Regions from separate parts of the Homo sapiens genome. Here all the other regions are linked to region 1. Evidence: fine-mapped expression QTL. A gene starts in region 1. Each other region holds a variant in brackets. All regions are shown on one strand. Distances are between the middles of the regions.

The links. PIP is the estimated chance that this variant, and not a neighbour inherited with it, causes the effect.
Region 2: its variant is fine-mapped to the expression of SPTLC2 in whole blood (INTERVAL, PIP above 0.99).
Region 3: its variant is fine-mapped to the expression of SPTLC2 in whole blood (TOPMed, PIP 0.98).

What each region holds. Positions count from the first base shown.
Region 1 is chr14:77,611,926-77,622,641 of GRCh38, forward strand. SPTLC2 (serine palmitoyltransferase long chain base subunit 2) reads right to left here and starts at 4,712. Exons shown (of 12, transcript NM_004863.4): 1 at 4,523-4,712. The coding sequence starts at 4,654. RefSeq lists enhancers at 3,969-4,178, 4,507-5,039 and silencers at 4,359-4,558, 4,699-4,748, 5,079-5,138.
Region 2 is chr14:77,258,501-77,266,500 of GRCh38, forward strand. It overlaps TMEM63C (transmembrane protein 63C), which reads left to right. Exons shown (of 24, transcript NM_020431.4): 24 at 1-995. NGB (neuroglobin) reads right to left here. Exons shown (of 4, transcript NM_021257.4): 4 at 6,983-8,000. MIR1260A (microRNA 1260a) reads left to right here and starts at 7,718; the gene lies at 7,718-7,790. LOC124903351 (a long non-coding RNA gene) reads left to right here and starts at 1,319. Exons shown (of 2, transcript XR_007064276.1): 1 at 1,319-2,642; 2 at 4,890-5,327. The variant A/G (reference allele first, on the strand shown) is at 4,443.
Region 3 is chr14:77,490,028-77,500,743 of GRCh38, forward strand. ISM2 (isthmin 2) reads right to left here and starts at 8,789. Exons shown (of 7, transcript NM_199296.3): 1 at 8,626-8,789. The coding sequence starts at 8,766. RefSeq lists enhancers at 631-1,132, 1,133-1,632, 9,413-9,472 and silencers at 8,273-8,332, 8,373-8,582, 8,853-9,042. The variant G/C (reference allele first, on the strand shown) is at 6,436.

The sequences.
Region 1 (10,716 bases):
AAAAGGAAGAATAGCTGCCTCAAGCTTTGCAATAAAAAGTAGTCTTAAAGACAAACTTAAGATAAATTTTCTAACAGTAAATGGGTCAAGAGCAAAGGACTTACTTTTTTATCGGTCACAAATTGTGAATTATATTACAGAAGCTTCTCAGAAACTACCCAGAAGGGAACTGACTTTGAGTCCACAAACCATTTATTTAATCAAGTATGGCACACCCACTCAGAATGCAAACAGTGCCTCTACCCATCCCTCTGAATTGCCTATTCTACCAATAAACACTGCTTCTTTCTTCCAAAAACTGAATCTAATTAAATCAACCAATTAACTGTCTTGCTCAAAGCGGTGCAAATTTCTATGGCACATGGGCAAACCCTAAAAAGTGGGCAAGTCTGACTTTTCTGAACATCCTAGTTCTAAAATACTATCTTAAGAACATAGCTGCTTACACATTTCCCAAGAATTCCTGTTAAAGAAAATTCCTGAGTATCTCAAATAACTCTGGAATTCTTCAGATGCAGCTATGTAAGAATCAAGATATGCTTCCCCTTAGAGTGAAAACTGAAATGAAAATCTTGTCCTCCAAGTTGTAAATTACATTATTTCTGAAAAGCCTTCAGGTATCTGAGGTATCTTATCAGGATCTGCTAAATCTAAATAGATATATGACTATTCTAACTATTTCTACTGTTCTAGCCTCATAACTATCGTCTCCTTTTCCTTAACTATCACATATAAACCCCCAGTTACTGTTTCTCCCTCAGTGGAAACAAAAGCTAGTAGCTATTTAGTAAACCAGCTTTATTAGTTATTTATTTGCCTCCTCCTAAGAAGCAAGACTAACACTTTGTTCTTTCTACTTTGCTTATTATTTAACATAAGAACACAACTTTTGCCCCAATTCCTTGAGATAGAATTTTTTATTCTGTAAGCCAGAGAGCTCTCATCCTTCTAATATCTCATTAAAACTACACCCAAAGGGAAAAAAGTTAGGGTCAAAACTGTCTCAAAGGTAGATAACTTTTTTTCTTTCACACTTATTAACTAACTCAGGAAAGTAAAAGGAAAACCTAAATCTCAAAACTTCTATAAAGAAATGGAAGCTCTTTTAAAAAGAGCTGTTAACGTGAAGTTTTAAAAACAAACACACAAACAAACTACTATATTTCAGGTGCAACCAAAACATGGCATTTATTTCATCAAATGTTAAATCCACAGGAAGAAATTTGGTAATTAAGATCATGGAATAATAATCCAATTTGCTATAGAGAAAAACTTGCTGCAAATCCCCTGGAGATCTTTAAAAACAGTACAGAATTTTCTATCAAGACTGATTTTAATAAACTCCTACAAAGAGATAAAGGACTGAATTAAATAAACTCCCAAAGGTTCTTTCCAATGCTAATGTAAAAGTTTCCCTCGGGCAAATTGCCACACCTTACCTCAAATAAAGGTTTGTGCTCCTCCCACTCATCTGAATAGCAGAGAGGAAAAATTACTGCTCTATTGTTCAACTGTTACTATTGTGAAAACTGTGTGTCTACTGTCATCACTAAACAGCAATGTGTGATTGTTTCATAACTCCTTAACACAGCATCTAGCTCATCAAATTCTAAACCCAAATCCAAGAGTTGTTCTTTTACTATACACATTCATTCATCTCTTCAAGCACAGAAACATACTCTTGAGAGTGTAAAGTGATCCTAGACGTTTCTGACTTCTCTCCTGTTCATTAAAAGACATGGTGGGAGATGTGAGGAAAAGAATTTACATCTCAACAATGTTATACTCTAAATTCATATTTTAGTAAAAGCATGACACACAGCTGTATGCGTATTTTTGATGGCACAGTTGGCAACATTTCCCCCCCAGAAAGAGGGGAAAGATAGGTAGAGGTTGGAGCACAAGCACATCGCTTTAATTAAAAATGAAAACAACTTTTAAAAAATGTTAAGATATTGTATTGCTCTCATGTAGTTACCAAGATCTCTCTTTTGTATAAGAAAGAAAAATATTCACAGACAATATTCCTCCATCTGAGAGTGTAGAAAGCTCCAGATCTGAAGTCTGTATTAAAAATACTGGTGAGAAGTAGTTTTCTAGAAGGGATACTGCAGCCCTCACAGCATTCCAACAGACCGTTCTTCCAAATGCCACCAATGTGCCTTGAGTGAAACTTTTACAAAACATGTCCCCAAAAGTCAACCAAATGTTATTCATACAGATTTTAAAATGTCATGTTAGTACCTTGATATTTCTTCACCTTATTAGTTGGCAAGCTCTGAAGAAATATCATTCTATAAATGCTAAATTGTTAGAGATTATGGGAGAAAGGTCCTTGATTTCCTACTAAATCTGAACATAACTCATAGGGATTGAAAGAAGCATTTGAACACAAAGCAACGCTGAAGTGTGAACACCTTTCTCTTGACTTCCTTTTTCATTTTAAAAAATCATACCGGCCAGGTGCAGTGGCTCACACCCGTAATCCCAGCACTCTGGGAGGCCGAGGCAGGCGGATCACGAGGTCAGGAAATCAAGACCATCCTGGCTAACACAGTGAAACCCCGTATCTACTAAAAATACAAAAAATTAGCCGGGCGTGGTGGCGGGTGCCTGTAGGCCCAGCTACTTGGGAGGCTGAGGCAGGAGAATGGCGTGAACCTGGGAGGTAGAGCTTGCAGTGAGCCGAGATCGCGCCACTGCACTCCAGCCTGGGCGACAGAGCGAGACTCCATCTCAAAAAAAACCAAAAAAACAAAAAAAATCATACCTCGGCCTGGTGCGCCTGTAATCCCAGCACTTTTGGAGGCCAAGGCAGGCCAATCACCTGAGGTCAGGAGTTCGAGACCAACCTGGCCAACATGGTGAAACCCCATCTCTAATAAAAATACAAAATTTAGCCGGGCGTGATGACGGGCGCCTGTAATCCCAGCTACTCGGGAGGCTGGGGCAGGAGAATCGCTTGAACCCAGGGGGTGGAGGCTGCAGTGAGCCGAGATCGCGCCATTGCACTCCAGCCTGGGTGACAAGAGCAAAACTGTCTGAAAAAAAAAAACAAAAACAAAAACAAAAAAAAAATCATACCTCAATGAAATTCACCTGCAAATGTATTTTCTAACTCCTACCCGTTAAATTTCCCTATTACATTCTATACCACAACAATTTTGTCTTATAAGTCGTTTACATTGCTAGGAAAACGACAAACTATTCCACTGCTTATAATGAGCTGACTGTTATCACTTCCTCCCTCACACAATTATTTCTTTAAAAGTGAAAACAAATCTTTTGATCTGTGTATTACTTCGCTTTGACACCTTACAACTTCAGGGGAGGTCAAGTCTGCTTTACTTATTTTTCCCCTCAACTCAGTCTCAATATCTCAACATGACCTGGAAAAATGCTTTATTTTCTGCTTCGCAGCAAACAGTAACAGACCTATCCATCATAACTACTCATCTGGGGAGTAGTTATGTTAAAGCCAAATTAAGATCACCATCCTATCAAACTGCAACAGTCACACTCCCGCTAAAGGGAAACAGAGTACTTTCTAAGCGTTCCTTAATATCTGTACAAGACTTAAACGTATTAAAGTCAACTGCAAAATTATCGCAACACTCTCTTCCAGGAACACCGATCTTGCATCTTTTTAACCAGCTCATCTTTAAAAACACATTTCAACAGAATATCTGTCAGTCCAGACCACTGTAAGGTTGATAATAAGCATTGTCTTGAATTTAGAACTTTTCAAAATATTTTAGAACTGCCTGAACTTGGTTGATGATTCAGCATGGTTAATTAGTATAGAGTCATCGCAAGTCACCACCAGGCTAAACAATCCCCTTGTGTGATAGCACTCGTGTTCAGGAAAGGGTCGAAGGGGCCACCTAATCCAACCTGGAGCCTGGGGTAGAGTCTCACCACCGGCAGAGTTAAGAGAATGATGCTTTCGAGGGACCAGCTTGGATTCCCTGCCAGATCTATGGACCAATGTCCTGGTTGGGGACTGAACGTGGTAGTCCAGAATGTGGTTGGGAGAGGCTGGGTGTGTTTCCATCTGACACCACCGCCTAATTTTCTTTGCTTCTTAAGGACCCCATGGGTGGTTTTCTTTGGACGACTGCAGGACTTTAAAAGGAAGCAATAACCTCAGGGGTTTGAGAAGGGACCCTCCGGAGCCCTTGGGCGGCTCCCACTGGAGTCCGAAGGGCCCCTCATCGCTTCCCCTGGGGACAGCACACACTTCTGGCAGAATGGGGCAGAGAAAAGTACCCGGAGCTCTGAGCAGAACCCAGAGCTCCGGGAGTAAGACCTCCAGGCGCGGAGAGGTGGGGAGCCCCCGAGCCGTCCTTGAGCCTCCAGGCTCGTGGAGGTCGGGCCAGCGGCCGGACACTGCCGCCCACACCTGCGAACGGCGCCCGCCCCGCGGATTGCCCAGCGGATGGCCCGGAGACCTCGCCCCGCCCGGCCGCCCCTCCGCCAGTCCACACCGCCACCCCGGCCCCGCCGCGCGGGCCCCTCGTACCTGGCCGGCGGCGGCTGCGGCTGCGGCTGCAGCGCTGCTCCTCACGTACCCGTTCCGTACTTCCCCGTTCGCCACGCAGCCATTCGCCCGCACCGTGCGGCGGCAGCAGCAGCCTCCGGGCTCCGGCCGCATCTTCCTGGCAGCACCAGGCGCAAGGCAGGCTCTGTAGGCGGTGGCAGCGGCGGCGGCTGCTCCAAGTCCCGCTCCGCACCCCACCCACCTCCCCGAAACCGGAAATGGCTGCAGCGCCGCCGCCAATTCCCGGGCGGGCCTTCACAGAGGGCGGGGCCCTCTCCGCAGAGGACCGGTCTCGGCCAAGGCCACGCAGCGAAGGGAAAAAGCGGCGGGGACCTGCCGAGAGGGATGTGGTCCTGAGGACCGCTGACCAATCTGGAAGAGAAGGAGGCGGACCCCATGCTGCTGCCTGGCCAATCACGGACGAGAGCAAAGCGCCTCGCCGGTGGAGAGGGGGCTTCTCTAGAGGGACTCCAGGGCCTGGCACCTGATTGGAGGCCGCATCCAGGTCCGGGGTAGGGCTTGCCTGTTTAATGGTCCAGACCGAGGAGGAGGCGGAGCCCAGGGAAAAGTAGCCAATTAGAGTGTGAGGAAATAAAAGGGGCTGAGCCGAAGTCTCTAGAGCGGGTTCCCAGGTTCTCCAGGACAGGTGGCGCCCTCTTTGCCCTTGCCTCGTGGGAAGTTTTGGAGTTTATGTCCTAGCCCAAGACAGGCAGCTCGCTTATTTAATTAGCTGATTCCTCTGTGAGTGTTTATAGAATAGATTTTTTGACAATCTCTCATCATTCTTCAATATGCGCCACACATTCACTATTTCTGAATTATTATAAGTAATAATTCAGATGCCTTTTCACGTGCCCTTCACATTTGCCCTTGGCAGGGTTTTCTATACAGTCTCCTTTAAATTAAGTCTTTCCTTCAAAGTTAGAAAACCTGGTCTAATTCCAACTCTGCCAATAACTGGAAGCTAAAACTTGAGCACTGTGTTTAACCACTTTAGAAGCCAAATTCTTTAAAATGGAGTTAATACTTCCTGCTTCATAGACTTACAGCAAGAATTATATCATTAACCCATTATGCACCTCTTATAATACTAGGCTTATAGTAGGAGTATAATAAATATTATTTTCTCACCCTTTTAGTTCCATCTTCCCATGGGGTTAGAAAGCAAGGAAATTGATCTACATTACAATTAGAGACTTTCTGTTATCCATAAAGAATTTAGTATCATAATTGAGAGTATGGACTCTGGAGTCGGTCTGGGTTTTAAATCCTAGCTGCGCCACTTACTAGCTGAGTGACCTCTATGTGTCTTCATCTGTTCAGTGGGGACAATAATAGTTGTCGTGAAGATTGAATAAGTTTATGTATGTAATGTATTTTGTACAGGACCTAGCAATTAGTAAGCATTCATTAAGTGTTGGTTACTAGTAATTGCTAAATGCACCTATGAGAATCCGTGCATTCTTTCCCCACCCTGCAGGAGCTTTAGAAAGGAGGTCCACAAGGTATTGGTTTTGCATGACTTAGGAGCTGAATAATCTAACAGAAGGTGGGATCATTCATCCCACACATCCTATTTGAGTTGACAAACACTATTGATCCCAAAGTGAATATACATCTGTATGTATAAGGCTAAAAAGGAAACATGTGGCTGTGCTTCATGGAGCTTACATTTCAGTGAGAGACAAGATATACACATAGAAAGAAAACAATAGTTAAAGACCAACCTAAGGCTGGAGAGATTAGGCAACAGGAGTTCTGATGAGGGAAGCTGAATGGCAGTGATGAGTCTAACCAGGTAGAAAGTTTTCAGGGCAGGAATCTGGATGGAAGCAGGGCTAAGGGATTTAACTGAAGCTTAGGGAGTGAGCTGAATGACTCTGGAGAAGGCTTGCGAGGAAGATGTGCAATGAGACAGATCTTGGAAGATGAGCGGGACTTGGAGAGCTGGAACTGAGAAGGATGGGGAGGGTGTTCTGAGGAAACCTTCAGAAACTCGGGTGTCGAGTCTAGAAAGATCAAAGCCTCACCTGCAGGCTAAGAGGAGTAAAGGAGTCTGGCTAGATTTGAGGAGTCCTGTTAGCCGATCCCTCCTCAGGGGGCTGGCCCCTTGTCTTGTTCCGCCACTTACTCACTATGTATAGTCTTGGACAAGTAATGCAAACTCAGCCCTGGTTTCCTCACTCATCTTACAAAGTGTGTACCTGTACTACTTACCTTACAGGCTTCTGTGAGCATCAGTGATATACAGATGATCTGATTACTTCACATGCCATTGCTAAATCACAAAAATGATGCTGCAGTAGGCAGTAGGAAACACCCCAGACTCCATGTAAACAGGAAAACAACTCCTTCCAGAAACATAAGCCGCTTAATCATCATTTTACAGTGTTCATATGCAAAGTTCTGTGCTAGGCACCAGGAAGACAACCCTTCTCTTCCTTCAAGATTGCTCAAACCACTTCAACTGTGAAGCCTGTTTTGAACCCCAACCTCCCCACAAAATTAGTTGCTTTCTCCTCTGTGAGCTTTATACACACCTGTGTAAGCATGTATCACACTGCTTTGAGATTCTTTGAGAGGGAGGTTACACAATGCTTAGAAGCAAGAGCTCTGCAGTCAGATATACCATAATTGAAGACCGGTTTCAGCACCTAGAATCCTTATGATTTAGGCAAAGCTGCCTAACCTCTCTATGACTCAGGTACTTCTTCTGTAAAATGGGATATACCTCATAGAGTTGGAGAATTAACAAAAGCATTTAGTGCCAAGACCTGTTACATAATATTAAATGAGTGTTGGTAATTATTCATTGGATAAATGAAGTACTTATTAAGTGAATGAATGATTGATTGAATACATTTATACTTACAATTAGGCAACAAGCTTGGTGAGTTGAGGGGATTGTCTAATTTATCTTTGGGTTCCCAGTACCTACCACGTGTCTGTCACATAGCAAATGCTCAATAAATGTTTGATGAATGCATAAATGGATAAATGAATTAAAATTTGGCCTTGGCTGGACATGGTGGCTCACACTTGTAATCTCAGCACTTTGGGAGGCCGAGGTAGATGGATCACGTGAGGCCAGGAGTTCGAGACCAGCCTGACCAACATGGTGAAACCCCGTCTCTCCAGAAAATACAAAAATTAGCCGGGCGTAGTGGCACATGCCTGTAATCTCAGCTACTTGGAGGCTGAGGCACAAGACTTGCTTGAACTTGGGAGGCAGAGGTTACAGTGAGCCGAGATTGTGCCACTGCACTTTAGCCTGGGTGACAGAGAGAGACTCTGTCTCAAAAAAAAAAAAAAAAAAAAATTTTGGCCTTGTCTCCAAGGAACCTTCTATCACATGGAGACTGTGTTAATTGAGGTTCTTTGGTTGCAGATAACATAAGCCAATTTTAAAAAACTTATTCAAGAAAGGTAAATTTATTGGAACTCTCCTGAAGACAGGGAAGTGTTGGCACTCAGGAAAATCCTAAACCTCAGCAGCAGAAAATTATAGACCTTCCTTCCTCCTAACCAAACCACTTCTGGTGCTTAGCTCTCAACAACCTACAACTTTCATATTCATGAGGTCAAACTTCTACACTCTCAGGAAAAAGAAATCTGATTGGCCTAGCTTATGGTGAGGATGGGTAAATCTGACCAATCGCAATGGCCAGAGCACAAGGTCAAACTGCTGGAGGGGAGGAATCAGTTATAGACAAGGAAGAATCATAGCAGAGAAGGGAGGAACAACCCTAACAGTGTTCACTACAAGGAGATAGAACCCGGGAGTGAAAAGGACAAATAGCAATAGCTTAGAATGGATGTTAAAGAAGGAGGCTGGCGGGTGCAGTGGCTCACACCTATAATCCCAGCACTTTGGGAGGCCGAGGGGGTCGGATCACCTGAGGTCAGGAGCTCGAGACCAGACTGGCGAACATGGTGAAACCCCCATCTCTACTAAAAATACAAAAATATTATCCAGCGTGGTGGCGGGCGGGAGGCTGAGGCAGGAGAATCGCTTGAACCCGCGAGGTGGAGGTTGCAGTGAGCCGAGATCGCGCCATTGCACTCCAGCCTGGGCAATAAGAGCAAAACTCCGTCTCAAAAACAAAAACAAACAAACAAAAAACCCAAACAAGTAGCCAAGCCTCAGGCAATCACAGAAGCCATACTTCAACCACTCAACAGGCAGCCAACTGTTCAGTGTTCAAATAAGGCAAATGCCAAGCTATAACCATTCCAACTGTTTCTGTGTCTCACTTCTGTTTTCTGTATGTTGCTTTCCTTTTTCTATTCATAAATCCTGTCTCACCATGTGACAGTGCTGGAATCTCTCTGAACCTTCTGATTCTGGATGGGGGCTGCCCAATTTGAGGATCATTATTTGCTCAGTTAAATTCTGTTAAATTTAATTTATTTCTTTTTTTCTTTTCTTTTCTTTTCTTTTCTTTTTTTTTTTTTTTTAGGATGGAGTTTCGCTCCTGTTGCCCAGGCTGAAGCGCAATGGCACGATGTCGGCTCACTGCAACCTCTGCCTCTTGGGTTCAAGTGATTCTTCTGCCTTAGCCTCCCAAGTAGCTGGGATTACAGGCTCCCGCCGCCACACCTGGCTAATTTTTGTATTTTTAATAGAGACAGGGTTTCACCACATTGGCCAGGCTGGTCTTGAACTCCTGATTTCAGGCGATCCACCCACCTAGGCCTCCTAAAGTGCTAGGATTACAGGCGCGAGCCACTGTGCCCGGTCTAAATTTAATTTCTTTGAATTTTTTCTCTTAGCAACACCCCTGCCAAAATAAATGACTTCTAACTACCCCTTCCATTGTTGGGTCACTTGGTCAAGAGTCAAATACTGGAGAGAATATCTGCTTGTTTGAGTTTACGTCGCACTGGTCCTAAAAGGTGCAAACAAAAGGAAAAAGTGTCCTTCACCTTTCATGATGGGAGGTGCTTACCAAGACACACCCTCTTAAGAAGAGTACGTTAAATGAGAAGAGATGATTTCCCAAAGGGAAATGGGGGACTTAATAGAAAAAGGGAATGGACACTGGGCAGGCAGAAATGGCCAATGTCCTTTATATCAGTCAAGGCTGCAGATGAATCACAAGATAGAGTTGTGTATTGTGGTAGGCACATGTAATCTTAGCTCTTCAGGAGGCTGAGGCAGGAGGAACACATGAGCGCAGGAGTTCAAGACCAGCCTGGGCAGCATAGCAAGACCCCATCTCAAGAAAAAAGAAAAAAAAGAAGAACCACAAGATGGAATGGAAAGGGCCCTTCAGAAGTAATCTGCTTTTGCACAAAAACCAGAGATAGATGATGCAGAGGTATTATTTGAACCTGACTCTGAGAGCATCATTTGGTCTTCCCTTTTCTTTTTCTTTCTTTCTTTTCTTTTTTTTCTTTTTTGAGATGGAACTTCACTCTGTTGCCCAGGCTGGAGTGTAGTGGTGTGATCTGAGCTCACTGCAATCTCTGCCTTCTGGGTTTGAGCGATTCTTGTATCTCCCAAGTAGCTGGAATTACAGGTGCATGCTACCATGCCCAGCTAATTTTTGTATTTTTAGTAGAGACGGGGTTTTGCCATCCTGGCCAGGCTGGTCTTGAACTCCTGACCTCAAGTGATCCACCCACCTTGGCTTCCCAAAGTGTTGGGATTACAAACATGAGCCACCATGCCTGGCCTGGTCTTCCCTTTTCAAACTTTTCTTGCTTCATTCATTCATTTATCTATTAGGCCAATCACACAAGTATTTTTTGCTGGCCATCATGTTGGGTACTGCAAATACAATGACAAATAGAAAGAAACATGGTATTTGCACTTGTAGAGCTTTCAGTCTTGATTTACAAGAAATGCGTCTGCTCTTTCCCCTTTCATTATTCCTAATCTAATAGAGTAAGTGAAATAGACTAATTCTCTCCCTGGGTTTCTGATCCTACTTTTGTGGAAAATCTTGGATGCTGTTTTTGGACTATTTTCAGTGGCAATATTTGCATCCACAAAACTGGGCAGGTCCTGGGACAAGAGTTTAGAATTGCATTATGACCCTGAGGCCTGAGCTATTTAAATGAATGTTTGCATGCAAACATGAAGCTTTAAGAGGAATGATGGTTTCTGATTATACACCTCCAGGGTGCCAGCTAAGCACTTAGTAGAGATTTTAATCTGTACCCAACAAAGC
Region 2 (8,000 bases), 350 kb before region 1:
CCCATTCCTTGTCCAGCTAGGAATAAAGGGGAAATGGTCCTAGCCTGGCCCCTACACACCCAGGTCCCACAGGCCCCCTCCCCACTGGAATTTCACCAACCAACAAGGGGAAAGTACGCTGTTACAGCATAGCGGTCAGGCCCAGCAGGAGCTTGGCACATGATGGGGAGGTGGCCAGCTCCAGGCCCTGCCCGACCCCATCATGTGTATTTGGTGTATGGGGTGTGGGGGGTCACACCAGAAGCTGGCCTGGGGTCTCTTCTTTGCTGGACACAGCTCCCTGGCCCCTGCCCCCAGCCCCTGCAGCCCCTGCCGGACTGTGGAAGCCACATATGGGAAAAGTCCTGGCAGACAATGTGGCGGGATGACTGGGGGCTTCTCCCTCTGAACCTGGGTCCAGTGTAGCCTGGCTCTGAGAGAAGGTGGTGAGCATGTGGAGAAGGTTCCATAGTCCACTCTTAGGGGAACCAGCAAAGCCTCATGGCAGTTGGCTCCATCTGGACCTCCCATGGTCACTACAGGATGGTGGAGCAGGGGGCATCTTTTAGCCTCCCCCCGCCACCACATCCAGGCCCTCTCAGGCACCTCCTGCCTCAGCCCACACCTGCCTCACCCATTGCCCCCCTCCCCCCACCTACTGCCATCCCACTCCTCTGCCAGCCACTTCCCAGCCGCCCCACCCCACTCCATCCACCAAATCACCTCCTGACTTAATCCTTTCTGGAAGGAGCTGCCGCCCAGGAACCGGTATTGCCTAGAGCCTCCAGGAGGGGCCCTCCTCAGGCCTCCAGTGGCCCCATGCCCACCTGCCTGACCCTCCACTGCCCCTGGAAGCAAAGTGCCTATCAGCAGCGTTGCGTCCTCTGGGGCCCCCGGTCGGGGGGGAGGGGGTGTGGGCTAACCTTGGCCACCACCACAAAAGGAATGTGCCAGAATGCTGAACCTTCTTGTTAATGCTATGACCGTGCCTTGAATAAACAAGTCCTCCCAACCTCTCCTGGCCCCTGCCTCTCTGCCTGTGCATCTGGGCCAGCCTGGCCTTGCTCCGCTGTGCAGTGGAGAGAACTTTCTGGTCCTTGAGCTACCCAGGAAGCCAGCAGGGCAGCCCCGAGGAGCAGCAGAAGTCTCTGGTGAGTGCTGAGCCCCATGAGCAGGCCACTGGGCTAGGCTAGTGGCCAGACTTCAAAACACACAGATTTCAGGTGAGGCCCCAGGAAGAGCGGCAGACAGGGCTCAGGTCTGCAAGAGGATGAGGGTGGGGGACTTGGGGGATGGGGGAGGTGGAGGAGAGGTTGGGTGGAGGAGAGGTTGGCACGAGGGAAGTGTGTGGGGCAGCCAGGTGGGATAAGAAACACCCGTTAGCAAAGGCTGTTATAACTGTGGCAAGGAGACAACAGTTCCCTGCCCTGGCGGACACATCTCAGGGTCAGGAGACTGGTTCTGTCCCTTCCTCCAGCAGCTGCATGACCCAGGCTGGTCACCTCATCCAGACAGTAGGGCTGGGAGGACATGAAGCGGACTGTTCTGCTTCGTGACTGAGCAGAGCAGATTTGAGGGCAGAAGATGGGAATCTTGTGGGTGTGTTGAGTAGGGGGAGACTTCCTCCCGCAGTGCTCCCTATGGGGACAGAGGATGACAGTCTCAGGGTGGCTGCCTAAGGACTCTTTCCTGCATCATCCTCGCTGGGTCCTCTCCGCAAACTTCTACGGTCCATCAGTGGCCACTGACTCAAAGTCTACCAAGGTGTGGGCCTGGGCGTGGGATCAAGACCCGTCCACTTGTCCCCTCTCCCCCTCAAAACAATTATTTTCCAAGTCAAGTCAGCCCTTAAAATCCACAAGGGCTGCTTCGCAGGAGAGAAGCCATGAAGACTCCCTGACTGGACGGGACGGGGCTGCGCCCTGCTGCTGCCTCTCATGGTCCCCTCCCAGGGGCCGGCAGCTCCAGGGTCCCCAGATGGCAGGCCTGGGACACTCTGTGGTTCAGCAGACCTTTCGAGGGCCTTTTATCAGGCAGAGACTGAGAAAGAGACAGAAAAACAAGCCGAAGAGGGAGGGCGGTCTCCCCAAGGATGGAATGTCCTCCAGGGAGGTTAGTGTTGGTCAATCCTCTCTCCACTCAGCAGGCCAGGATGGACCGGAGGCCTGAAGGTGGATTTACCTGGGCTGGGGACGGGACTGGGGCAGGGCAAGAGGGAGCCCCAGGAGGCTGGCTCCACTGGGCTGTGCCCAAGAAAGGATTGGAGCACGTGACCGAGTGCTGCGCAGGGAGGAAGCAGCGGGGCCTGAGAGTGCCCCATGCCTCTGCCCAGAAACCAAGCCTGGGGCTGCACGGGGCCCCGCCAGGGAAGCCTGAGGCAGCTCACTTCTGTCCTGAGGAACCTCCTTGCTGGCCAGATTCCAGGTTTCTAGGTCTGCTCTGTGGAAGGCCTTGCAGAGGCGAGGAGAGCCTGGTCTATGGGGAGACAGGTTCCCAGGCTTTCTGAACAGAGGCTGCTTTCAGAACATCTGACAGTCCCTCGGCCTGGACAAGTGGCAGCCCGGCAGCTCTCAGCCTCAATTCCCAAGGTTCTCCAGCCCAGCTGCAAAGGAGAGTCACTCTCAATGTCCAGGCCCCATCCCTGAAAAACCAAAATTTCTCAGGTGGGGCCCAGTACCCTGTATTTTACAAAAGTCCCCCAGGTGATTCCAGTGTGCAGGGAGGGGTGAGTGGATAAGGAAAACAGTCCCAACCTCAGGCACTGCATGCCCTGGGTGGCCTCAGCATCTCACCATCGCCAGCTTAGAAATGACAACTCCCTAGCTCAGGCACGCTTCTGCCATCTTTATCTTCTTTTGCAATAAGTATGAGTACCATGTGGGCCCGAGGGCCACACACCAGGTGTCAGGGGCACTTCTGGCTACCTTGTCATCTTCAGCAAGGGTTCAAAGACTGTCCCTCTTCCCTCCCCTCCAAACACAGAGCCCAGTGGCTTCCATGACCGCCTGCCCATTTCCGTGCAACAGAACGTGACAAGTGCAGTAAACAAATAGGCCTACATAATGGGGTGTCAGGGAGAGACAAAGCCGGATAGGGGCAAGGGGTGCCTGTAGGTGGGGAGAGGATGCTTTGCACTAGAGAGGCCAGCACAAGCTCTGTGGAGGTGAGACATGAGAGCCAGCAAAGGGTCTGTGGGCACACATGCGGAGCCCAAAGAACCAGGCAGAGTGAGCGAGGGGAGGAGAGGGTGGGGCGAGGTCTGAGTGGGCAACAGGCTGTGCAGGCCACGCTGGGACTCCAAGTTTCACTCATCATCTGAGAAACTATGGGAGGATTCTGGGTAGGAGTATGATCCCCTTATGTGTTTGTTTTCCAGGTTTTTTTGTTGTGGTGGTGGTGGTAAAGTACACATAATCATATTCACCATCTTAACCATTTATGGGTTTTTTGTTTGTTTGTTTTGTTGTTGTTGTTGAGACAGAGTCTTGCTCTGTCACCCAGGCTGGAGTGCAATGGCGTGATCTGGGTGCAGTGCAACCTCCGCCTCCCAGGTTCAAGCAATTCTCCTTCTTCAGCCTCCCAAGTAGCTGGGATTACAGGCATATGCCATCATCATTTTTGTATTTTTTAGTAGAGATGGGGTTTCACCATATTGGCCAGGCTGGTCTCGAACTCCTGACCTCAAGCAATCCGCCCACCTTGGCCTCCCAAAGTGCTAGGATTATAGGCGTGAGCCACCGCGCCCGGCCACCATCTTAACCATTTGTAACTGTCCTGTTCAGTGGCATGAAATACATTCGTAATGTGCAACCATTACCACCAGCCATCCTCCACAACTCTTTATCTTGCAAAACTGAGACTGTATACCCATAATCAATAATTCCTCATTCCCTCCTCCCCTTAGCCCCTGGCCACCACCCATGTAACTCTTATGTGCTGAAATGGTCACTGTCACCAGGGTAGGACAAGTAGAAGCAGAAAGCCCAGCTGGGGCCAGGTGTGGTGGTGCACACCTGTAATCCCAGCATTTTGGGAGGCTGAGGTGAGAGGATTACTTGGGGCCAGGGGCTTGAGACCAGCCTGGGCAACAAAGCAAGACCCTATCTCCACAAAAATTTTAAAAATTAGCTGGGCATGGTGGCATGCACCTGGAGTCCCAACTACTCGGGAGACTGAGGCAGGAGGATTCCTTGAACCCAGGATTTCAAGGCTGCAGTGAGCAATGATCATGCCACCACACTTCAGCCTGGGCAACAGAGTGAGATCCTGTCTAAAAAAAAAAAAAAAAAAAGCCCAGTTGGGACTGTGTCAGAGGCATTCAGGAGAGAGAATATGGTAGCTTGCACCAGGATAGGGAGTGAATAAAGAAGCAGTTAAACTTGGAACAGAGGTTGAGGATTCATGGATGATTAGATGTGGGGTCTGAGGGAAAGCAGGAACGCAAGGATGACTCCCAGATCTTC[A/G]GCATGAACAACTCAGCACACTCTGGTTTGAGGTGGAGAAAGCTGGGAAGAAAAAGGCCAAGGGAAACCCCAAGAGTTCCATCTTGAGTGTGTTCTGGTTAAGATGCTATGTGGGGATGTCAAGAAGGTGGCTAGATACAGGAGTCGGGCTGGAGATGTCATCAGCACCTGGGTGGTGATTAAAGCATGGGACTGGCTGAGACTTTGATGGGAGCAGGTGCAGGTGAGGAGGTCTGAGGGCTGAGCCAGCACAAAGAGATGGGAGGAGAACCGGCAAGGAAAACCAGGAGGGACTCAAAAAGGAAGGAGGGTGTCCCCAGCTCTAACCACGCTTGGCAGTAAATGCGGTGCATAGAGGAATAAGTCAAAAGATGCCACGAAGCAGCTTCAGCCAAGTGGAGAATGCTGAACAGGCCATTAGACAAATGACCCACTTCTCCCACACAGCAATGGTGAGGGGAAATGGCAAGAGGGGCCAGGCCAAAGTGAAAGAGTGAAGAGACACAATCAAATGCGAAGTGTGCATCCTGAGTTGAACAAACCAACTGCAGAGAGACGTCTGGGAAATCTACACGTGGATGAATGTGGGCCATCAGGGAATTTGAATTAGGTGATGATGAGAAGATACCGTTCATCTTGTTAGATGTATTGATGGCGTGGCTTCATATGTGAAATAAAGTGCCAGCTAGAAATTCATATGGAAGAATTTACAGGTAAAAGAACATGAAGTCTTGGATTTGCTTTAAAACTCTCCAGCAAAAACAAAGAAACAAAAACAAAAATGGGAGGGGGGTGTGGTTGGGGGAAGAGGTGCATGGAGATTCCCTCATCTCTTGATTCTTGTGTATGTTAACATTTTTCCATAATAAAAAGTGTAAAAATAAAGGCATGACCAACTTTTTCGAGTGCTGCTGAGCAGGAGAGGAAGATAAGGACTAAGATGTGACTCTACATCTGGCAAGATGAGGGTGGTTGGTGACCTTGACTGTAGTAGATTGAAAGTGGGGGCAAAGCCTGGTTGAAGCAGGTTCCCATCCTCCCATAAGAAGTGAGGAGATGAAAACAGCAAGGAAAGACTGCTCTTTCGAAGGGTTTTGCTATCAAAGGAAGAAAAGAACCAAAGGGGTAGCTGGAGAGGAAAGGAAGTGAGGGGTTGTTCTTTGTATAGGAGGGGAGATGTGGGCTGATAGAGGAGGGATGCAGGAGAGAGGGCTGAGCCCTTGAGCAGAGGAGGAGGTAAGGGATACTCTCCCCTGATACAGACGTGCGTGCATACACGCACACGTGCACACACACATGCATACACACGCGTGCACACACACCAGTGCATGCCCATGCACACACGCACTCACACCTAAGTAGAAGAGTGGCTTTCAAAAAAGGTGAAAGCATCCATGCTTAGGATGACTCAGACACAGGTCAGAGGAGGGCATTAGACCTTTCCAAAGCCAGGCCACCTAGAGAGCTGTGGGCCAGACATGGACACCTGAGCCTGACCCATTAATAGGTCACACAGCAGATGAGGCCCTCACTCACTGCAGCCTGTAGGGCTCCAGAAAATGCTCTGGGCACCACAGCGGCCAAGGCGTTCCTAACATGCTGCAGACCCAGTGCCTGCAGTCACATAGCCTGGCAGGCCTGGCATCTGAGCTTAAAGAAAATGAGGCCCCATCTGGGAGCTGGCAAGGCCCCGTGGGCATCTGCTACATTCAGTCTTGGCTGAGAAACTGGAAGCCCAGGGCGAGGACAGCCAGCCCAGGCACAGGCCTTGCAGCCATGCGTGGGCTTCGGGCCCGCCGCCGAGGCTGGAACACATGGAGGTAACCCCAAACCTGCTCCAATCATGCCTACTCAACACAGCTTCTCTTCCCCACGTCCCTGGCTGGCTTTCTAGCCCACAGCCTGTGGGGTCCCAAGCCCCCGACCAATGACCTGCTTCAGACCATGGATCAGTGCGGGTATGGGTTTAACTAACCCCAAAATGTGTAATGGCATAAACACAAGAGAAGTTTGTCTCTTTCATATAAAATTCAAAATGGGTGATTCTGATTAATAGGCACCTTCCTCCAAGCAGCGATTCAGGGTCAGGACTCCTTTCACCTGTGGCTCTGCCATGTTCAACACGTGGCCCTCATGGTCTCTGTGAGGTCTGTATCACACCAGCAGAAGGATGACAGAGCATGGAGGAGCATGCAGGAGTTTTGGGGGACCAGGCCTCGGAGTGGCACACACATCTGCACGGTCCAGCGGCCAGAGCCCAGTCACATGCCCCACCTAATTGCAAGGGTGGCTGCATGACATCCAGCTGTGTGCCCAGGAGGAAGAAGAGCTGGTTTGTGGTCTGCCAGCCAGTTTGGGCCACAGACCCCACAGATGTCTGCCACTGGCTTCCCAGAGCTTCCTCCCAGGCCCCTCCCTCCTGTTCCACCCACTCCAGCCTTGGCCTCCCTGACTCCATCCTCCCATCCTGTCCTGAGATCCACTGCCCTGCAGCTTCATCTGGCACAGGCCAAGACCCAAGAAAAGATCAGGCCCGAGGGTCAGAGAGGCACACAGAACCAGTTTATTTCTCATGAATTTATAGGACCACAGTCAGCACAGAGCAAATGGTACAAGTGCAGATGGCTGGGGTGAGGGCGGGGGCCTCTGCTGCTGCCTTCTCTTCTCTCCAGCTGCCTGAGTACTGGCACACAGCGGGCAGTGAATCTGAGGAGCTGTGGCCTCACAGTCGCTGCAGGCTGAGCCAGAAAGGAGGGCCAGGGGAGGTAAGACTCACTCCTGCAGGAGCGGGTTGGTGATGAAGGGCTGGGGGAACTCGGGTCTCTCTGGGATGAAGTCACCCCTCCTTCCTGGCCGGTCCCCAGCCCCTCCCCACCTGGCCAGCTAGCTGGGTTCCTGCAGCAGCGGAATAGTCAGGGAGTTCCCAGCAGAAGTGCTGAATGAGGGAAAGGGAATGCCGCCAAAGGAAACCGACTCTGTCAGGGCATCTGCACAGCCCGCGAGACTCAAATGAGACCCATTGAGACCCAGGTCCCCCTTCCCTTCCCTGGCAGTTCTGATTCTGCTCCCACTGCCTGGGATTCCACCAAGAAGGCTAAAGCTGCTCTTTCTCTTTATTTGTGAAAAGCAAGCCATCTTGGGGCAGGAAAGCAGTGAAGGGACTGGGCAGGCAGGACAGAAGGCGCTGGAAGCTCAGCCATCTCACCCCCGCCTTGGCCTGCACTCACCTGAAGAAGCAGGACAGACAGAAGAGCCCCATCCTCTCCCACCTCCATACCTTTCCAGCTCATCCCACCTCTGCCACCAAAACACTCATCGCGGGGTCAGAGGGAGTGCCAAAAAAGGTAAAAAGAAACGCAAGAAAGAGGCTACTGGGGATGAGGGGACACCCAGAAGCCCCTTCCTGGAGGAAAAGCCACTCCTTCTGCAGCTGGACTCTAGGATACTGAGACCCAGCCCTGCCCCATCACCTCTCCAGTGTGGCCAAGGGGACAAGGACCAAGATGCAGGGAAGCTTGGGGAGCCTGGGCTACAACAGATACAGGCCAACAGACAGAC
Region 3 (10,716 bases), 120 kb before region 1:
TAATTTTTTGTATTTTTAATAGAGATGGGGTTTCACCGTGTTAGCCAGGATGGTCTCAATCTCCTGACTTCGTGATCCGCCCTCCTCGGCCTCCCAAAGTGCTGGGATTACAGGCGTGAGCCACCACGCCCGGCTAATTTTTTGTATTTTTAGTAGAGATGGGGTTTCACCATGTTAGCCAGGATGGTCTCAATCTCTTGACTTCGTGATCCGCCCGCCTCGGCCTCCCAAAGTGCTGGGATTACAGGCGTGAGCCACTGCACCCGGCCAAGAAGCCCAACATTTTCATTCTGCACTGGGCCCCACAAAAAATGTGGCCAGTTGGCTTTCCCAGGTAAAGGCAATAAAAAAAGAAAGAAAAAGAACGGAGCCAGTCTTGCCGATCACCCTATATGTACAGACTCACTGGATTCTCACAACAACACTTTAGGTAGGTGTGAGCATCATCTTCACTTCATAGACAATGCAGCCAAGGATCAGAGAGGTAACGTAACTTGCCTGGAGTCACACAGCTAGGGGCTGGCAGAGTGGGATTTGATGTCAGTGGTATGGCTGGAGTTTGTGCTCTTAAGCCTTGTGCTTTGCTAACTCCAGGCAGTGGCTGCACCTTCTGGTTTGCCGCCTGCTGCTCTGCGGTGCTGAATGTGCTGGATGAACAAAACACTATACAGGATGTTCAACTCTCCACGTCCATCCTTCCCTTTGATCCTCGTAACAACCTGAGACTGAGATCGGAGAGGCTGGAGACTTGCCTGAGGCCTCTGGGCAGCCAAGCTTCCAGGCCTCATTCCTGTCCTTCTCTCTCTCCCTCCCTGGGGGCTTTTCCAACCCTTTAGAGACTGAATGGTCTGGAGGGATAAGGAAGGCCATAGCTGAGGTCCAGGAAGGTGGCCAGCTGCAGGAGAAGGCTAGCAGGTGAGGCCACAGGCTTGGCACCACACAGACCTAGGTTCTAGTTCTCCCCTGGCACTCACTCACTGATTGGGCTAGAAAGACCCCACAACCAGATAAAATCAGCCTTTAGGAAATACATCCTTCTCATTGCCACCCACCTGGCAGGTGAGACCTTGCAAATCTCCGGCAATCCAGCCCCTGCTTCCAGGCAACTGGCTGGACAATGGACCGGGACTGAAGTGCTGGGGGGGCACCCCCACCATGTTCATGACACTGCCTCAGGTTTCTCAGGGACCCCAGGCTCCTTCCTCTGCCCTTTGTTCTGTCTCAGCCTATACCCTCAACAAGCGCTTCTTTCATGGCCATTTAACCCCTGCTGCGGCAGCACAAACCACCCCCATCCCGCTCCAGGTGGGACAGTCTTTGCAGACTGGAAGAACAGTCCTCTCTCAGGTCTCCTCTGTTTATTTATTTATTTTTAAATAGAGATAGGGTCTCACTCTGCAGCTTAGGCTGGAGTGCAGTGGCATGACCTCGGCTCACCGCAACCTCTGCCTCCCGGGCTCAAGTGATTCTCCTGCCTTAGCCTCCCAAGTAGCTGGGATTACAGGTGGCTGCCACCATGCCCGGCTAATTTTTTTGGTATTTTTAGTAGAGACAGGGTTTCACCATGTTGGCTAGACTGGTCTCCAACTCCTAACCTCAGGTGATCCACCCGCCCTGGCTTCCCAAAGTGCTGGAATTACAGGCATGGGCCACCGCGTCTGGTCTTTTTTTTTTTTTTTTTTTTTTTGAGATGGAATCTCACTCTGTCACCCAGGCTGGGGTGCAGAGGCACAATCTCGGCTCACTGCAACCTCACCTCCTGGGTTCAAGCGATTCTCATGCCTCAGCCTCCCGAGTAGCTGGGATTACAGGCCCCTGCCACTAAGCCCTGCTAATTTTTGTATTTTTAGTAGAGACGGGGTTTCACCATGTTGGCCAGGCTGGTCTTGAACTCCTGACCTCAGGGGATCCGCCTGCCTCAGCCTCCCAAAGTGCTAGGATTACAGGCGTGAGCCACCGCCCAGCCCCCCACCTTTTTTTTTTTTTAAATAAAGACAGAGTCTCACTCTGTAGTCCAGGCTGGAGTGCACTGGTGCAATCACAGCTCACAGGAGCTGTGAACTCCTGGCCTCAATCCTCCCACCTTGGCCTTCCAAAGTGCTGGAATTACAGGCATGAGCCACCACACCCAGCCTCTCTTGCCTAATTCTAACCCCCTCAACCCCTTTGTGGCACCAAGTCCCCAGCTCTTCTTTCTCCCATGCCAAGGTCTTCCCTTGCCTGCCAGGGAGGTGGTGGGTGCCAGGTTTAGGTGCCCAGGGGCTCTGGAATTAAGCAAAACTGAGTGGGGATCCTGGCTCACCACATACTAACCTTGGGTTAGTTACTGGGCCCGCTGTCAGTTTTCTCATCCCTAAAATGATAATAAGACAAGGAACACACATGGCGGCTGTTTGAGTGGTGTTCTCATCCTAACTAGAACAGAAAATACCCAAGACAGAGCTGGGTCACTCTTTGCCTGTCCAGCACTCAACAAACTGGCCCCAGCCTTTTTTTTTTTTTTTTTTTTCAAGACAGGGTCTTGCTCTGTTGCCCAGGATGGAGTACAGTAGTGTGTTCACAGCTCAGAGCAGCCTCGAACTCCTCGTGATCCTCCCACCCACCCTCCAAGTAGCTAGCACTATAGGCATGCACTACCCATGCCTGGCTTGGCCCAGCCTCTTTTATTTAATTAATTTATTTATTTGAAGACAGGATCGGCCAGACATGGTGGCTCGCGCCTGTAATCCCAGAACTTTGGGAGGCTGAAGCAGACAGATCTTCTGAGGTCGGGAGTTCGAGACCAGCCTGACCAACATAGCTACTAAAAATACAAAATTAGCCGGGCATGGTGGAACATGCCTGTAGTCCCAGCTACTCAGGAAGGCTGAGGCAGGAGAATCGCTTGAGCCTGGGAGGCAGAGGTTGCAGTGAGCCAAGATTGTGCCATTGCTCTCCAGCCTGGGCAACAAGAGCGAAACTTCATCTCAAAAAAAGAAAAAAAAAAGACAGGGTCTCATTCTGTCACCCAGGCTGGAGTGCAGTGGTGCAATCAATCACAGCTCACTGTAGCCTCAAACTCCTAGGCTTAAGCAATTCTCCCACTTCAGCCCCCAGTAGCTGGGATTACAGGTGCATGCCATCAAGCTTGGCTAATTTTTGTATTTTTAGTAGAGACAGGGTTTCTCCATGTTGCCCAGGCTGATCTTGAACTCCTGAGCTCAAGTGATCCACCTGCCTTGGCTTCCCAAAGTGCTGGGATTACAGGTATGAGCCACCATGCCTGGCCCACAACCTGTTTTTATGACGATGTCACCATCCATGTGTCTGGTGCTTTTTCACCCAGCACTGCATCTGACAGAATGGGTTCTTATTTTACTGTGGGAGTAAACTGAGGCTCAGCAACAGGCCTGCCCAGAGAAGCAGGGGCCATATTTTGTTCACAAGGCTAATTATTTATTATTATTTTTTTTGAGAGGGAGTCTTGCTCTGTCACCCAGGCTGGAGTGCAGTGGCACGATCTCAGCACACTGCAACCTCTGCCTCCTTAGTTCAAGCAATTCTCCTGCCTCAGCCTCCCAAGTAGCTGGGATTATAGGCGCCCACCACCACGCCTGGCTAATTTTTGTATTTTTAGTGGAGATGGGGTGTCTCCATGTTGGCCAGGCTGGTCTCAAACTCCTGACCTCAAGTGATCCACCTGCCTCGGCCTCCCAAAGTGCCGGGATTATAGGCGTGAGCCACTGCGGCCAGCCGAATGATTCTTTTCTTTTCTTTTTTTCTGAGATGGAGTCTCGCTCTGTCGCTCAGGCTGGAATGCAGTGGCGCGATCTTGGCTCACTGCAAGCTCGGTCTCCCGGGTTCACGCCGTTCTCCTGCCTCAGCCTCCCGAGTAGCTGGGAGTACAGGTGCTTGCTACCATGCCCAGCTAATTTTTTTTTTTTGTATTTTTAGTAGAGATGGGGTTTCACCGTGTTAGCCAGGATGGTCTTGATCTCCTGATCTTGTGATCCGCCCGCCTCGGCCTCCCAAAGTGCTGGGATTACAGGCGTGAGCCACCGTTCCCGGCCCTGTGATTCTTTTCAAGACTTCAGATGAGCAGACTAGAACATGACATGCAAAGATGTACCATAAGGTCCCAGACCTGGCTCCTGGCTAGGCTTAACTTTTCTGTGCCTCCATTTTTCATCTGGAAAATGGAGATCATGCCCATGTCAAAGTGGTGTAACAATGAAATATTCTCATGTTAAGTAATTCATATGGACTCTGTAAGGCCCAGAAAATGCTCACTTCCCTTTCAGCAACCTTTACTTTTAGATTCAGGGGTTTGATGTTCTTTAGCTTCTTCATTAAGGTCTTTGGGCTGGTCAGTTATTTCTTTTTTATTTTTCAATTTTTTTTAATTTTTGAGATGGAGACTCACTCTGTCTCCCAGGCTGGAGTGCAGTGGCACAATCTCGGCTCACTATGACCTCTGCCTCCTAGGTTCAAGCAATTCTTCTGCCTCAGCCTCCCAATAAGCTGGGACCACAGGTGCCCACAACCATGCCCGGCTAATTTTTGTATTTTTAGTAGAGATGGGGTTTCACCAGGTTGGCCAGGCTGGTCTTGAACTCCTGACCTCAAGTGATCCACCCTCCTCAGCCTCCCAAAGTGCTGAGATTACAGGTGTGAGCCACTGCACCCAGCCTGGTCAGTTATTTGTGACACGCCACCCAAGTCCCTAGAATAGCAATCTGCATTCTCTCAACATGACTCCTTAAACTAACACCTTTGCCATAGACAGCTTTAACACAAATCATGAAGACTCATGGAACGATGTCAGAGCTGGACAGAACCATAAAGATGACTTAGGCTCTCTCAGCTCTCTTTTTTCATTTTATTTATTTATTTTTGAGACAGGGTCTCGCTTTGTCACCCAGGTTGGAGTGCAGTGGCGCGATCTCAGCTCACTGCAACTCTTGCCTCCTGGGCTCAGGAGATCCTCCCACCTCAGCCTCCAGAGTAGCTGAGACTACGGGGGGCGCACCATCACGCTCAGCTAATTTTTGTATTTTTTGGGGGGTAGAGATGGGTTTTCGCCATGTTGCTCAGGCTGGTCTTGAACTCCTGGGCTCAAGCAATTCTCCCACCTTGGCCTCCCAAAGTGCTGGGATTACAGGTGTGAGCCACCACGCAGGCCCCTCTTTTTAAATGTGAGGAAATCATCCGAGGTGAGTCACACATGCATTAATGACCCACTGGGACCAGAACTCCAAGGCCTAGACTCTAAGCTCTGCTTTTTCATTGTGGCACTAATTTGTTTTCACATGTTTTTGATGACTCTGCCAGGCTTTGTACGGGAGCTGAGGATATGATTTTGGCTCTGAAATAACTCATCCTCTAGGGTGTTCTTGTTAGGGGAAGATTTGGCAAACATGCTAAAAATAATTACAATACAAAGCAGTAAGTACTAAAATAGAAAGTATTCATGCCAAGTGAGCAGAAACAATGCCAATTTAGTTAATTTTATTATCACTGTCATCTCCATGTAGGAGGAGGGACTGGCGAGAGGCCTCATCTGTCTACAACAGTCATTCTCCACTACGGGCAGTGGGGATAGGGTGTCCCACAGGAAGCATGTGGAGTGTCTGGGCCTCGTGAGGCGGCAAGTGCTACAGGCGCCTAGTGGGTAGAGGCCAGGAATGCTGCTAAACGTTCTATGAAGCATAAGACAACAGCCCCTACCACAAAGAATTATATGCCCCAAAATGACGAGGGTGCCGAGGCTGAGAAGAGCCAGTCTAAAGGATGCATTCTCAATAGGGGCAATAACTAGATCTTGTGAGGGACCAAAAAGTCTTAAGATATTACAATGGTTTGTGACATTCCAAAGGGCTATAATACATAGACAGTGTATCTATGGTATTAAAATGTCATGGGGAGGTCGGGCGTGGTGGCTGACACCTGTAAGCCCAGTACTTTGGGAGGCCAAGGCAGATGGATCACTTGAGGTCAGGAGTTTGAGACCAGCCTGGTCAACATGACGAAACCCCATCTCTACTAAAAAAATACAAAAATTAGCTGGGCGTGGTGGCAGGCATCTGTAATCCCAGCTACTCTTGAGGCTGAGGCAGGAGAATCGCTTGAACTTGGAAGGTGGAGGATGCAGTGAGCCGAGATTGAGCAAGACTCCATGCCAAAAAAAAAAAAAAAAATTCAGCCGGGCATGGTGGCTCACGCCTGTAATCCCAGCACTTTGGGAGGCTGAGGTGGGCAGGTCACCTGAGGTCGGGAGTTCAAGACCAGCCTGACCAACATGCAGAAACCCCATCTCTACTAAAAATACAAAATTAGCTGGGTGTGGTGGCGCATGCCTGTAATCCTAGCTACTCGGGAGGCAGAGGCAGGAGAATCGCTTGAACCCAGGAGGCGGAGGTTGTGGTGAGCCAAGATCACGCCATTGCACTCCAGTCT[G/C]GGCAACAAGAGCAAAACTCCGTCTCCGGGAAAAAAAATAGCCGGGCGTGGCGGCTCACACCTGTAATCCCAGCACTTAGGGAGGCCTAGGCAGGTGGATCATAAGGTCAGGAGTTCGAGACCAGCCAGTTCGAGACCAGCCTGGCCAACATGGTGAAACCCTGTCTTGACTAAAAATACAAAAATTAGCCGGGCGTGGTGGCGTGAGCCTGTGATCCCAGCTACTGGGGAGGCTAAGGCAGGAGAATTGCTTGAACCCGAGAGGCGGAGGTTGCAGTGAGCCAAGATTGTGCCACCGCATTCCAGCCTGGGTGACAGAGTGAGACTCCATCTCAGGAAAAAAAAAAAAAAAAAAAAAAAAAAAAAAAAAAAAATTCATGGGGAGTGGGGACAGGAAAAAAACCTAAAAGACTCCTTAAGGGGGCAGAAAAAAAGGTAGCAAAACTGGTCTACAGACACATCCTCAAGTGCAGCCAGTCTCCCCATTCCTTCCCACGGCCTTTGGAGGGTTTCAGCAGTCTGGACAAGTTCTGGCTCTCACTCTCTCACTCACTCACTCACAATCTCCCACACCCTGCATGCCTATATGGACCCTCAGTGTCGTCATCTCAAAAATGGGAAGAATGGCTGGGTGCAGTGGCTCACACCTGTAATCCCAGCACTTTGGGAGGCCGAGGCAGGTGGATCATGAGGTCAGGAGCTCAAGACCGGCCTGGCCAAGATGGTGAAACCCTGTCTCTACTAAAAATACAAAAATTAGCCAGGCGCGGTGGCAGGCGCCTGTTATCCCAGCTACTTGGGAGGCTGAGGCAGGAGAATAGCTTGAACTCGGGTGGCAGAAGTTGCAGTGAGCCAAGATCGTGCCACTGCACTCCAGCCTGGGCAACACAATGAGGCTCTGTCTCAAAAAAAAAAAAAAAAAAAAAGGAAGAAGAAGAATGGCTGGGCACCATGGCTCATGCCTGTAATACTGGCACTATGGGAGGCTGAGGCAGGAGGATTGCTTGAGGTCAGAAGTTCAAGACCAGCCTGGGACACACAGTGAGACCCCCCCATCTCTACAAAATAAAAAATAAAAAAAATTAGCCAGGTGTGGTGGTGCATGCCTGCGCTCCCAGGTACCCAGGAGGCTGAGGCTGGAGGATCGATTGAGTCCGGGAGGTTGAGGCTACAGTGAGCTATCATCACACCACCGCACTCCAGCCTGGGTGACAGAGAGAGATCCTGTCCCAAAAATAAAATAAAAGAGAGGGAGAAAGAAAAAGTAGGAAGGAAGGAGGGAGGGAGGGAGGGAGGGAGGGAGGGAGGGAAGGAAGGAAGGAAGGAAGGAAGGAAGGAAGGAAGGAAGGAAGGAAGGAAGGAAGGAAGGAAAAACGGCAAGATGGGAAGAGCTATTCGGGCCTCCTACAGCTTAGTACATGGAAGGACCCAGGACCCAAGACCTAAGACCACCTGCCACATAGGACTGCTCCTGCATACCCTAATACAAGTCTGGCTGTCTTTGTCCCCATGGGAATGAACGTCCGCTGCATTCCAGGGGGCAATAAGCTGGACTGTAGACCCCTCAGTGACTGGAAGACACAGGGTTTGACAGACCATGGCTTCTCTCCATGGCCAACACCACTCTTCCATCTCATTCCTGTTTTATACCCCAATGCCCACCCACAGGCCACGAGGACAGAGCCAGTCTCAGGCTGGCCACCCCTGCCGGCGGCTGGAGAGCCCCACTGTGCCTCCGCTTGTCTCATGGAAGGGGCTCACCTGACCGTTTGAACCTCAGCGGCCCTGGCCCGCCACTCCGCAAAGCGCCAGATTCCTCGCACCGGCGGGACTCCTCTCCGAGCTAGCGCGCACCTGGAAAGGGGGCTGCAGGCGAGGTCCGCTCAGGGCGAGGAAGCCCGGCCACCGTGGAGTGTCGGCCACCTCACTCCGCACAGAAGTCAAACTTGTCACCCGGCTGGTCCGCGGCAGCCCGGCTCGCGGTCACGCGCGAGGAGTGGAAGCCCCGAAGTCCGGCGCACCTGGGCAACGCCCGGTGTCCGGGAGCTTCCGGCCGGCCCCGGCCCCTCTCTCCATCGGGGGGTCGCTGCCTGTGTGTGTCCCGGTCCCGCTCCCCGCACGGCTGGAGCCGGCGGGCTGGGGAGGTGGGACCGACAGCGCGCTCCGCAGCCCGGTGCCGCCGCCACTCACCTCTGCGAGCCTCGTGAGGCTCCCAGGCCGTGGTCCGCGGAGCCGCGGCTTCTTCACGGGGAGCCCTAGCGCCGCCTCCAGCAGCGCCGCCAGCAGCAGCACGCAGAGGAGGAGCCCGGCTCGGTCGCGGAGCGCACGCATCGTCTCGGTTCCGAGGCTGCTCTGCCTGCACCTCTGCACGCGGCCGCGAACCCAGTCGCGCCCCGCCTCGCCTCCTCCGGGGGCGGGACCCGGCGATCCTGAGGGGCGCGCGGGGCACGGGGCCGCGCGGGGCGGGGGCGCGCAGCTCGCACAGCCTCTCTGGCCCCGGCTCCTCGCGTGGGCGCCCGCACAGCTCTAGGGTCCGCGCACCTGGACGTCCCCCACCCTCCTCCGAGGGGCCCCTCGGCGCTCCCCGACCCGTCTTGACCCTGTGGGCGGCTCTCTTTGATCTGGCCGCCTCCCCGCCCTCAGTCCCCGCCGCTGTCGCCGTCGCAGCCCCCAGCGAATTCCTGTTCGCGGGAAGCTGCGGCCCGGCGCGCTCCGGCCCTGCGCTGCGACTCCTGCGGGGCCCTGAGGGTCCGACGCCACCTCTGCCCTCCCCGACCGCGCTCCAACTGCGACCTGGACCGGCGGTGCCGCGCGGGCGAGGGAGGCGCAGCCCGACGGGAGAGTGGCGCGAGTCTTCGGATGCCGGGCAGATGTTTGGTTATGCCTCGAGGAAGGTTTGCTGGGGAGGAAGCCTAGAAGTAACTCCCCCAGGGCTCTTCCCAGTCTACTGCCGGAGGTGGAGACCAGAGCAGAGGCACAAGCCAGCACCTGCCATTCTGCACCCAGTGTCCTCGGAATGTTCTCAGAGCACTTTTAAAAACCGGAGAGTCGGCCGGTGGCTCACGCCTGTAATCCCAGCAGTTTGGGAGGCCGAGGCAGGAAGATCACTTGAGGTCAGGAGTTGAGACCAGCCTGGCCAACAAGGTGAAACCCCGTCTCTACTAAAAATACAAAAATTAGCCGGGCGTGGCAGCGCGCACCCGTAGTCCCAGCGGGTGGGAGCCCCGAGGTCCGGCGCACCTGGCCCACACACAGGTGGGAGAATCGCTTGCACCTGGGAGGCAGAGGCTGCAGTGAGCCGAGATTGCACTATTGCACTCCAACCTAGGCGACAGAGTGCGACCCTGTCTCAGAAAACAAAACAGGAGAAAGTTGAGACTCAGATGTGAGGATAAAGTCCCAGAAGGACAGCCGGGAGTCTGGTCGTCGCCTAGTTGTATCCTGGGTGAAACAGTGAAACTGCCCACTTCATCCAGTGGGACCCTTGGTGCAGGGATCCTCACGTAGGCCACGAGGGTCACCAAGATGGCCTGCCTCTGAGCAACCGACACAAAACCTTAGCTTGTGGCAAAGATCAGGAACTCTTGAGAGGCAGTGCCAATCTGGATGGGGCAGCTTGGGAATGTGAACGCAGTGACACCAGGTAGGGGGAGGGGTTGGGACAGGTCGGTGAGGAGCAGTCACAAGGCACTGGGGACATGCCCACCCAGGGGTCATAGCAGGGCGCACAAAGGATGACTCAAGTTTCAGGGCAGGGTTGGTGGATCCCCAGGGGTGGTAGAGAGGATGAAGAGCAAGCCCAGCTACTGGTGTAAACTGCTGGGTCTGGGTCAAGTTAGAGTAAGACTGTGGGGGGACTGTGTGCTTTTCTGGAACTACTCCTATTCCCAGGGGCACAGCTGCAGGGTTTTGAATGGTGCATCACAGGGATGACAACCTGGGTCTGGATTCGGCCATGGGGACTGGAATCTTTCACCATTTACCAAGTAGGTGATATTATTGGACAAATTATTTGACGTCTTCGTGCTCTTGTCATCTGTAAAAGTGTGGGGGCCCGGGAGCAGGAGAGGTTACCCCTCTCACCTGGGCACCAAGTGTGAGAAGTGTGAGTAAATGAGAAGTAAATGTGAAGTAAATGTGAGTAAATGAGAAGTAAATGTGAGTAAATGAGAAGCCAGGTTTCCATGTTGAGAATTTGTATTAGAATGAACTATATGAAGTTGCCATGTTTTGTTCAAAAGGTCGAATATTGGCAATTTCATATGGTGCAACCTAATAGGG